Homo sapiens: one gene and its partner. The protein of the gene in region 2 interacts with the protein of the main gene of each other region in a biochemical or structural test. Each region holds a gene or a part of one and is shown on either strand. Other genes may lie near its edges.

What was found. Proteins that work in one complex are often made in the same cells at the same time.
Region 1: the proteins of BIRC2 (region 2) and RIPK4 form a complex in vitro, tested with the Homo sapiens proteins (one study listed by BioGRID).

The regions. Positions count from the first base shown.
Region 1 is NC_000021.9:41,752,600-41,757,052, forward strand, and holds part of RIPK4 (receptor-interacting serine/threonine-protein kinase 4), read right to left. Parts: intron 4,218-4,453; coding exon 3,926-4,217; intron 1-3,925.
Region 2 is NC_000011.10:102,356,085-102,361,492, forward strand, and holds part of BIRC2 (baculoviral IAP repeat-containing protein 2), read left to right. Parts: intron 1-5,408. UniProt on the Homo sapiens protein: Multi-functional protein which regulates not only caspases and apoptosis, but also modulates inflammatory signaling and immunity, mitogenic kinase signaling, and cell proliferation, as well as cell invasion and metastasis.

The DNA.
Region 1 (4,453 bases), on a different chromosome or scaffold from region 2:
CGCCAGCTCCCCAGAGGAACGCCATCACCCGACCCTGCAAACCCCGGCGGCTGCTGGACGCTGGGACACAACAACGGGTCCTAACTCTCCAAATAGCTCCAGAGCACAGGAAGTTTCAGTTCAACAGTCATCAGTGGCTTGAAAGCCTTCAAATTCAGAAATGGGCTGAACAATGAGAACACATGGACAGAGGGAGGGGAACATCACACGCCGGGCCCTGTCGGTGCGTAGGGGAAGAGGGAAGGGAGAGCATTAGGACAAACACCTAATGCATGCGGGTCTTAAAACCTAGGTGATAACCTAGATGGTGGATGGGTGCAGCAAACCACCATGGCACATATAAACCTATGTAACAAACTGGCACATTCTGCACATGTATCCCGGAACTAAAAGTAAAATAAAAAATAATAATAAAAATAAAGAAAGCATCACATACTTTCTAGGCAATTCCTCCTCCCCCTGTATGGTTGAATGTAGGAAAAAAATATCTCCCTCCCACGGTTAGTTAAGGATCAGACTCACTGTTCTAATCTTGCCTGTACAAGTTAGTAGCTCCGTGGCCCTGGACTATTAGCCTCTCTGTGCCTGTTTCCTTTTTTCATAAAAGGAGGCAATAGCAGTACCCATCCTGTAGCTTTGTTGTGAAAATTAAATGACATCTGAGATCATTAAGAAAGAAAAGAAAAGAAAAGAAAAACGACAGGGGTGCAGAGATCTCAGCCTGGTGCTTCCCCAGGCCTGCAGCCTTTTCTCCTCCTGTCTTTGTCAGATAGAGCCAGCCACTCCAAACTATACTTGGTGAAAAGAAAACGAGCAGAAATTCTCTGTAAAACCTCTGGCAACAAAATGCAAGCTCGGAATTGAGAATTCTAGGAGGGTCACTGACCCTCTATGTTCTCCTCCCTCCATGTCTCGGACTCCTGGCCGGCTGCATTTCCCCTCCGCCTTTCCTCATCTTCCCACCCAAGCTGCCCCTCACCCCGTGTCCTCAACAGCGAGCTACTGTGGCATCCACTCTGACCAGCAAATGCTTCAAGAGTTACAAACACTCTCATCAGCACCCGACTCTGCATCTCCAAGAGCTGAGGGCTCACAGCTGCCCCCAAGCACATGGCCCTTCAACTTCAAGGTCCAGCTGTCAAGACTAAGAAAGCAGCCTGCCGGGGTTTTGCTGCCTCTAAAAGAAAGACACAGCAGAACGTGACCCGCGTGTGACCCTTTGAAAAGCGTCTGTTTTGGGCTAACTGGACATATAAATGCAGCCTGAGATTTTAAACCAAGTTATTTCATTTTTAAGTTGAAATTGATTCCAACTAGTATCTTAATATTGGTATTTAGTATATGTAATGTTGAATAATATCAAGCATTAATTTGATACTATTACTTTGTATACTATTTACATTTAACTGCTTCATGAAGTAGACAGTTGCTGTGATATTTCCAGTTTGAATCGAGCCCTGAGCACTGAGGGAGCCCATCTCAGAGGCGAATGGCAGCACTGGAATGGCAACTTAGGATCTAATTGCAGGATTCTGGATTACAGTTTTCCTGCATTGAATAACTGTCTACTGAGGACTGCCCAGAAGCCCAGTGGTCAGTCCATGCAAAGCTTCCACACTTCGTCTTCAGGAACAAAGGCGCTGACTCTCAGAACCCCGACACACACTCCCTGCTGCACTCTACGCACACCAGTAGCTATTTCACAGAAAAAATAAGTATGTCACGTAAAGGTATTTTTCGGTTTGTTTTTGGGCTTCTTGATGGTGACTAACATGCCTGATTAAGAAGGACGCCACACAAAAGCAATCTTTCCTGCGGCCTGTCAGGGTACACAGGGCCCTAAGATGTCCCAGGGGCACCACACAGAGATGTCCTGTCACTTCCTGGCCAGCACCCAGCGTGCCTTCGACAGCAGCCTCCCTGAGAAAGCAGTTCCAGGCAGCATCCGCCCCCTGCAGCTGTCCTGAAAGACAGGGAAGCCCTGCTGCCTGCTGCCCCTGCAGGAAGGCCCAGAGCTCTCTGCGTCTCTTGGGCTGTTTCCTTCACCTAAAGGCTCTGCTGCTGCCTGCCCCGACTCCTGAGGGCAGAAAAGCCCCACCCTGTGTGAAGGCCCAGCCCCAGGAGCACTCCCACCCCCTCCCACAGGGCCGCCTCTAGGCCCAGCCTGCGGGCCACACACCCTGCCCCCAAGTGACTGCTACGTGCAGTGGTCATTTGGTTTCTTTCATGTCAAGCACAGTGGCAGGCCAGGTGGAAATCAAGGTCTCTGCTCCGTGACTTACAGCTGGACGATCCTGGCTGCTAATTTACTCACTCTAAGCAGAGACTCAGCGAGAACCAGAGGCCACCGTCCACTCTGCACCTCTGCTCTGAGGATGAGGGCAGCTCCCGCAGGTGAAGCCTCTAGCATGTCCTTTCCGGTATTCAGTGCACGTTGGACGGCAGAGCTTACTAGTCATTAGGGCCCCAGAGCCTGTGCTACCTAGAAACAAGCCCGTAAATGTTGGCGGGAATGGGGGGTCCGCATGTGAGGCCCAGCCCTGCCCATCACAGGAAACGGGAATCCCAGGGGTCCCAGAACATAAGCAGATGCGGGAAACCACCAGAGAGCCCGTTCAAGCCAAGTCATTTGATTTTTGTCTCCATTATCTCAATTTCCTACTTCACTTCGCAGGACGGTGCTTCATCTTCTAGCTGAAATCTTATTACTGCGCAACACCTACCTAAGAGACAACTTATAATTACTGCCCGAAGTGAAAAATTGACCTCCTCACCACCGCCCTGGCTGAGCAAGGCACGCGAGATGCACTCGTCCGCAGAGTCTGGGCACAGGGAGCGGCCGTGCGCATGCCATACGAGCCACCGCTCCCGTCCCACCCAAGAGCTCAGGGGCAGGGCCGGGCCCTGAATTCAGGTCTCTCCTAATTAATGGTCAGGCCATCAGAGAGGCCTGGAAGTGCTGTGCCACCAGGAACAGTAGCACAGCCAAGCCAGGCAGGGGACTCCTCTGCTTGTCCCCTGCATGAACTACATGGATCCGGACCATGGCTCTCGGCTCCTTCTCACTCCCAGGGCAGACACCAGTGTCATGTGGACCAGCCTATCACCCTGGGCCTCCCAAGAGCATGTGAACATCACCACGTGGGGAAAAACTACAACGCGCCAGGTGTAACCACCACATGTCAACGACAGTACAACCCTAGCCACGAAGGCCATCAAAGGAGATACAAGGAAATACAGCCCTGATGCAAAGGTGATGATGCTAACACCTGCCAAGGCCCAGAGGCAACACTGGTTTTCAGTTACATTATCTCTCTTACTTTTCTGTGTTTCAAAAACCTATCAGCGAAGCAAAAGCAAGCTCCATCTCCCAGGCGTTGCACTAACGCAACACGCTGCCACTCCGCACTCTACGCAGGGGCAGACAGAGGCAACGAGCCCCTCCTCACAAGCCTCTTTCCACAGCACTTTGAGGACCCCACTGCAGAGGACCCCCACATTCCCACCACCCCGAGCTCCTGAAAACACTGAGGGAAATGCGTCCCTTTGTTGCAGAGCCTAAGGTCTCGCAAGGACACACCTGGCCCACGGGCTGAATTCTAACCTGATTTCATAAGACCAAAACCCACAAACCCGTAATCTTTTTCCGGAATGAGTCATATGCCAAGATTTGGGGGAACAGCCCCCATGTTCACCAAGCTACCCTCCAGCTACATGGCGTGTGGTTTTCATACCAACCAGGACAAGCTTAGGCTCCTGGAGTCCTCATGCTGCAAAAGGCCTCGGTTTCAAGCTCTTTCCTCCAAGAAGAACCACCTCCTCTTCTGCCCTTGTCCTGACCTCAGGGCTTGACCCCTTGATACCCTGCTCCCCAAGACACAGGCCCTCCCTGCCCAGCTCTCTCGGGCACCGTGCGGCCCCCCACCTTGACGTGGTAGTGGGCATCCAGCAGGATGTTCGCGGGCTTGAGGTCCAGGTGCAGGAGTGGCGGGGCCATGCAGTGCAGGAAGTTCATGCCCACCGCCGTCTCGTGGATGATTCGGAACCGGAGATCCCATGGCAATGGCTCCGAAGCCAGCAGCTTTTCCAGGGAGCCCGTCTCCATGTACTCCATGACCAGGCCGACAGGTTCGCGGCAGATGCCATACACAGGCAGGATGTAGCGAAACTTGGCCATCTCCATCTTCTTGGCTTCTTCCAAAAGCTCCATGCGCTCCCTGAAAAAGTTCAAAGGCATGAAGAATACGCAATGGTCACTCAGCCACAAACATGGAACAGCACCCTGGCCAGAAGACGACCAGCTCCAGAGGGCTGAGCAAATGCCTCAAGTGCACACACATGGGGCACACTTCAATGTCACATCACGAATGCAGGGCTTTCCAGAGTCTCAGTCCTGAGGCTGCTGAAATGTACCTATGCATCACAGGGTTATCACAAGTGAGGAGGAGGGAAA
Region 2 (5,408 bases):
TCTTTTTCTTGCTTAATTGCTCTGGCTAACCCTTCCAGTATTATATTGAATAGACGTGGCAAGAGTAAGCACCCTTGTCTCGTTCCTCATGTTAGTGGAAAAGCTGAAAGCTTTTTTTTTTTTTTTTTTGAGATGGAATTTTGCTCTGTTGCCCAGGCTAGAATGCAGTGGCGCAATCTGAGCTCACTGCAACCTCCACCTCCTGGGTTCAAGTGATTCTCCTGCCCCAGCCTCCCGAGTAGCTGGGATTACAGGTGCGTGCCACTGCACCCAGCTCATTTTTGTAATTTCTTAGTAGAGATGGCGTTTCACCATGTTGGCCAGGCTGGTCTCCAACTCCTGACCTCGTGATCCACCTGCCTCAGCCTCCCAAATTGCTGGGATTAGAGGCGTGAGCCACTGCACCCGGCCAGCTTTCAGGTTTTCATTATCGAGTATGATGTTAACTGTGCACTTGCCATTTATGGTCCTTATGTTGAGGTATATTCCTTCTATAGCTAAATTGGTGAGAATTTTTATCCTGAAAGGGTGTTGAATTTTGTCAAATGCTTTTTCTGTGTCTGTTGAGATGTTTATATTATTATTATTATTATTAATTTTTTTTTTTTTTTTGAGATGGAGTGTTGCTCTGTCACCCAGGCTGGAGTGCAGTGATGCAATCTCAGTTCACTGCAACCTCTGCCTCCTGGGTTCAAGTGATTCTCCTGCCTCAGCCTCCCGAGTAGGTGGGACCACAGGTGCATGCCACCACACCCAGCTAATTTTTGTATTTTTAGTAGAGATGGGGTTTCACCAGGCTGGTCTCAAACTCCTGACCTCAGGTGATCCACCCATCTTGGCCTCCCAAACTGCTGGGATTACAGGCGTGAGCCACTGCACCTGGCTGGTTATATGATTTTTATCCTTCATTTTGTCAATGTGTGGTATCACATTTATTGATTTGCATATGTCATACCATCCTTGCATCTCAGGGATAAATCTCACTTGATATATGATTCTTCTAGTAGGCTGCTGAATTCGGTTTGCTAGTATTTGTTGAGGATTTTTGCATCTGTGCTCATCAGGGCTATTGGCATATAATTTTCTTTTCTTGTGTTGTCCTGGTCTGGCTTTGGTATCAGAGTAATGCTTGGCTTCATAAAATGAGTTTGGAAGTATTCCCCCCTCCTCCCTCCTTACTCCCTCTTCCCTCCCTCTTCTTCCTTCTTCCTCCTCCTCCCTTTTCTTTCTTCTTCCTCCTTCTTTCCTCCTCCTCCTCCTCTTCCTTCTTCTCCTCCTCTTCCTTTCTTCTTCTTTCTTCTTCTTGATAGAACTGTGCTATGAGGTCATCTGTTCCTGGGCTTTTTCTTTGTCAGAAGAGTTATGACTACTGATTCAATCTCCTTACTAGTTATAAGTCTTTTCAGATCTTCTATTTCTTCTTTATTTTAGTCTTGATAAATTACAAGTTTCTAGGAATGCATCCATTTCTTCTAGGTTATACAGTTTTTTGGTGAATAATTGTTCATGGTAGTCTCTTATGGTCATTTGCGTTTCTGTGTTATCAATGGTAACATCTCTTGGTTTTGATTTTATTTATTTTCGTCTTCCTTTTTACTAGTCAAACTAAAGCTTTGTTGATTTTACTTATCTTTTCAAAATCCAGCTCTTAGTTTTAGTGGTCTTTTCTATTGTTTTTGTAGTCTCTATTTCATGAGATTTTGTTATTTCCTTCTGCTAACTTTTTCTAGTTCCTTTAGATGTAAAATTACGGTGTTTATTTAAGATTTTTTTTAAATATAGGCGATTATTGCTATAAACTTTCCTTTTAGAACTGCATTTGTTCTATACATTTTGCTATGTCGCATTTCAATTTTAATATTTCTTGTGATTTTTTAAAATTTTCTTTTTGATTTCTTCTTTGACCCATTGATTATTCAGGAGTATTTTGTTCAATTTCCACATAGTTGTCAGCTTTCCAACTTTCATTCTGTTATTGATTTCTGGTTACATACCATTGTGGTCTGAAAAGATACTTGATAGGATTTCAGTCTTCCTCAGTTTGTTGAGTCTTGTTTTGTGACCTGCTGCATGATCTACGCTGGATAATTTTTCTTGTGTGCTTAAGAAGAATGTGTATTATCTGCTGTTTGATGGAATGTTCTGTATAAAGGTTGAGTATCCCCAATCCAAAAATCCAAAATCCAAAATGTTCCAAAATTTAAAACTTTTTGAGTACCAACATGATGCTGAAAGGAAATGCTCTTTGGAACATTTTTGGTTTTGCATTTTTGGATTAGGGATGCTCAGCTGGTAAACATAAGGCAGGTATTCCCAAATCTAAAAAATGTAAAATTCAAAACACTTCTAGTCCCAAGCATTTCAGATAAGGAATATTCAACCTGTATGTTAGATCCATTAGATCCAGTGTATAGTTGAAGTCCAATATTTCCTTACTGATTTTCTGTCTGGATGACCCATCCATTATTGAAAGTAGGATTTTTGAAGTCTTCTAGTATTATTGTGTTACTATCTATTAATGTCTTCAGATCTGTTAATATTTTCTCTGTTTATTTAGGTGGTCTGATGTTGGGTACATATATATATTTACAGATACTGTATCCTCTTGTGGAATTGGCCCCTTTCTCATTATATAATTACTTTCTCTGACTCTTTTTACAGTTTTTGATGTAAAGTCTGCCCTATCTGATAAAACTTTAGCTTCCTCTGCTCTCTTTTGGTTTCCATTTGCATGGAATATCTTTTTTCCTATACCCATGCATGTGCTTAAAGGTGAATTGAGTCTCTTGTAGACAACCTGTAGCTGAATCTTGTTTTCTTTATCCATTCAGCTGCTCTTTATCTTTTGATAGGAGAATTTGGCCCATTTACATTCAAGGTAACTATTGATGGGTAAAGACTTCTGTCATTTTGTAATTGTTTTCTGATTGTTTGGCAGATTATTTGTTTCTTCCTCTCTTGCTGTCTTCCCTTGTGTTTAGATGATTTTCTGTGGTGGTATGCTTTGATTCCTTTATATCTTTTGTGCATCTACTATTGGTTTCTACTTTGTGGCTATCATGAGGTTTACATAGAACATCTTATAGTTATAGTAGTCTGTTTCAAGCACTAACAACTTAATTTCAATTGCATTAAAAAACTGTACTGTTACTCAGACCCTCCTGCACATATTTTATGTTTTTGATGTCATTATTTGCATTTTATATTGTGTATTCATGAAAAAATTATTGAAGCTATAGTTATTTTTAATACTTTTTTTTAAAAACCTGTATTTTAGAATTAAGTAATTTACACATGACCATTACAAATTTAGTATATTATTAATTTGATTATATATTTATCTTAACAGTGAGTTTCATACTTTCATATGTTTCCATGTTGCTAATTAGTGTCCTTTCATTTCAGCTTGGAGAACTCTTCAGCGTTTCTTGTAAGGCGCGTCCAGTGGTGATAAACTCCCTCAGCTTTTGTTTGTCTGGGACTGTTTATATCTCTTTCATTTCTGAAGGACAGCTTTGCTGGGATACATATTCTTGTCTGGTAGTTTTGTCTTTCAGCACTTTGAATATATCATCCAACTCTCTCCTGGCCTACAAGGTTTTTGCAGAGAAATCCACTTGTGGTCTTATAGGGTTTCTCTTGTAGAAGATGAGTTTCTTTTCTGTTACAGTTTTAAAATTCTCTTTCATCTTCTATTTTTGCCAGTTCATTATAATGTGTGTCAGTGAAGTCTTCTTTGGGTTGAATCTTTATGGGGTCCTATGAACTTCCTGTACCTGGATATCTTTCCCTAGATTTATGAAGTTTTCAGCATTTTTTTTTTAAATCAGCTTTCTGTCCTTTCTCTCTTTTCCTTCTTGAATTCTCGGGTTTGTTTTTCATTTTCTTGGGTTTTTTTTTTTGATGGTGTCTTGTTCTGTCACCCAGGCTGGAGTGCAGTGGCATGATCTCAGCTCACTGCAACCTCCACCTCCCAGGTTCAAGTGATTCTCCTGCCTCAGCCTCCCACGTAGCTGGGACTACAGGTGTGCACCACCATGCCCAGCTAATTTTTGTATTTTTAGTAGAGACGGGGTTTTGCCATGTTGGCCAGGCTGGTCTTGAACCCCTGACTTCATGTGATCCACCCGCCTCAACCTCCCAAAGTGCTGGATTACAGGTGTGAGCCATCGTGCCTGGCCTTGAATTCTTAAAATGCAAATATTGTTTTGCTTGATGGTGTCCTATAATTCAGGTAGGCTTTCTCCACTATTCTTTTTTTTTTCTTTTTTTCTCCTCTGACTAGATAATTTCACATGATCTGCCTTTGAGTTCACAGGTTCTTCTGCTTGATCAGGTCTGCTATTGATGCTCTCTATTGCATTTTTTGTTGTTATGTTCTTCAGCTCCCGAATTTGTTTCTTTTTATTATTCCTATCTCTGTGTTGAATTTCTCATTTGTTTGTATATATTTTTTTATTTCATTATCTGTGTTCTTTTGTAGCTCACTGAGTTTGCTTGAAACAATTATTTTGAATTCTTTATCTGTTAGTTCATAGATCTCCATTTCTTTGTGGGTGATTACTGGAAAATTACTGAGTTTCTTTGCTAATGTCACGTTTCTTTTTTTTTTTTTCTTTCTGTTTCTTGTGGCCTTGTGTTATCTGTGTATTTGATGGACGAATTACTTCTAGACATTACAGATTAGTGTGTTTTTTTTGTTTTTTTTTTTGTGGGCAAAGATCTTTGCCTGTGGGTGAGGGTGAGGGTGAGGGCGCCAGCCAGTAGGTGTGGTGGTTCTGGCTCTGTGGAAGGCCCAGCATTGTGAACTCCATGCAGCTCCATTAGCCCAGATCATTGTCAGTGAGGATTGCAGGGGTCCTCAACATCCAAGGCTGCAGGTATCCATACCAGCAGCAAGGCTTTTTTTAGTCTATAGTGGCAGAGGCTGCTGGGGACCTCTTCATCACTTTTTCTCCCATGGGAGACATTGTGGCCAAGGGGATTCTTCTTGGCACAGGTTCTGGCTTTGGGCTTGTTGTGTTGGTGGAGGTGGCAGCACTGATGTCTCTGATGGCGTGGACACCTGTGGAGCAGCTACAGAGCCAAGGTTTGGAGTGCAAGTGTTTGCAGAAAGACAGCGGGTCTTGGGTTCAGGATGTTGACTAGCCTGCAGCAGTGGTGCTTCTAGTGCCTCAGATGTGGGTGCACGTAGAGCAGCCTTTGAGTTGGGTGCGGAGTGCAGGTGTGCAGAGCAGCCAGAGAGCTGGGATCTGGAGAGTGTGTGATTAGAGCAGCCACAGAGCAAAGGTCTTACATGAAGGTACATGTGAAGCAGCTGTGGCTCTGGGGTCTGGGGCATATGTGGGGGTTAGGGGCTGCACTGTCTGGGCAGTGCAAGAGCTGCTTTTTTTCAGGGTGAGGAGTGC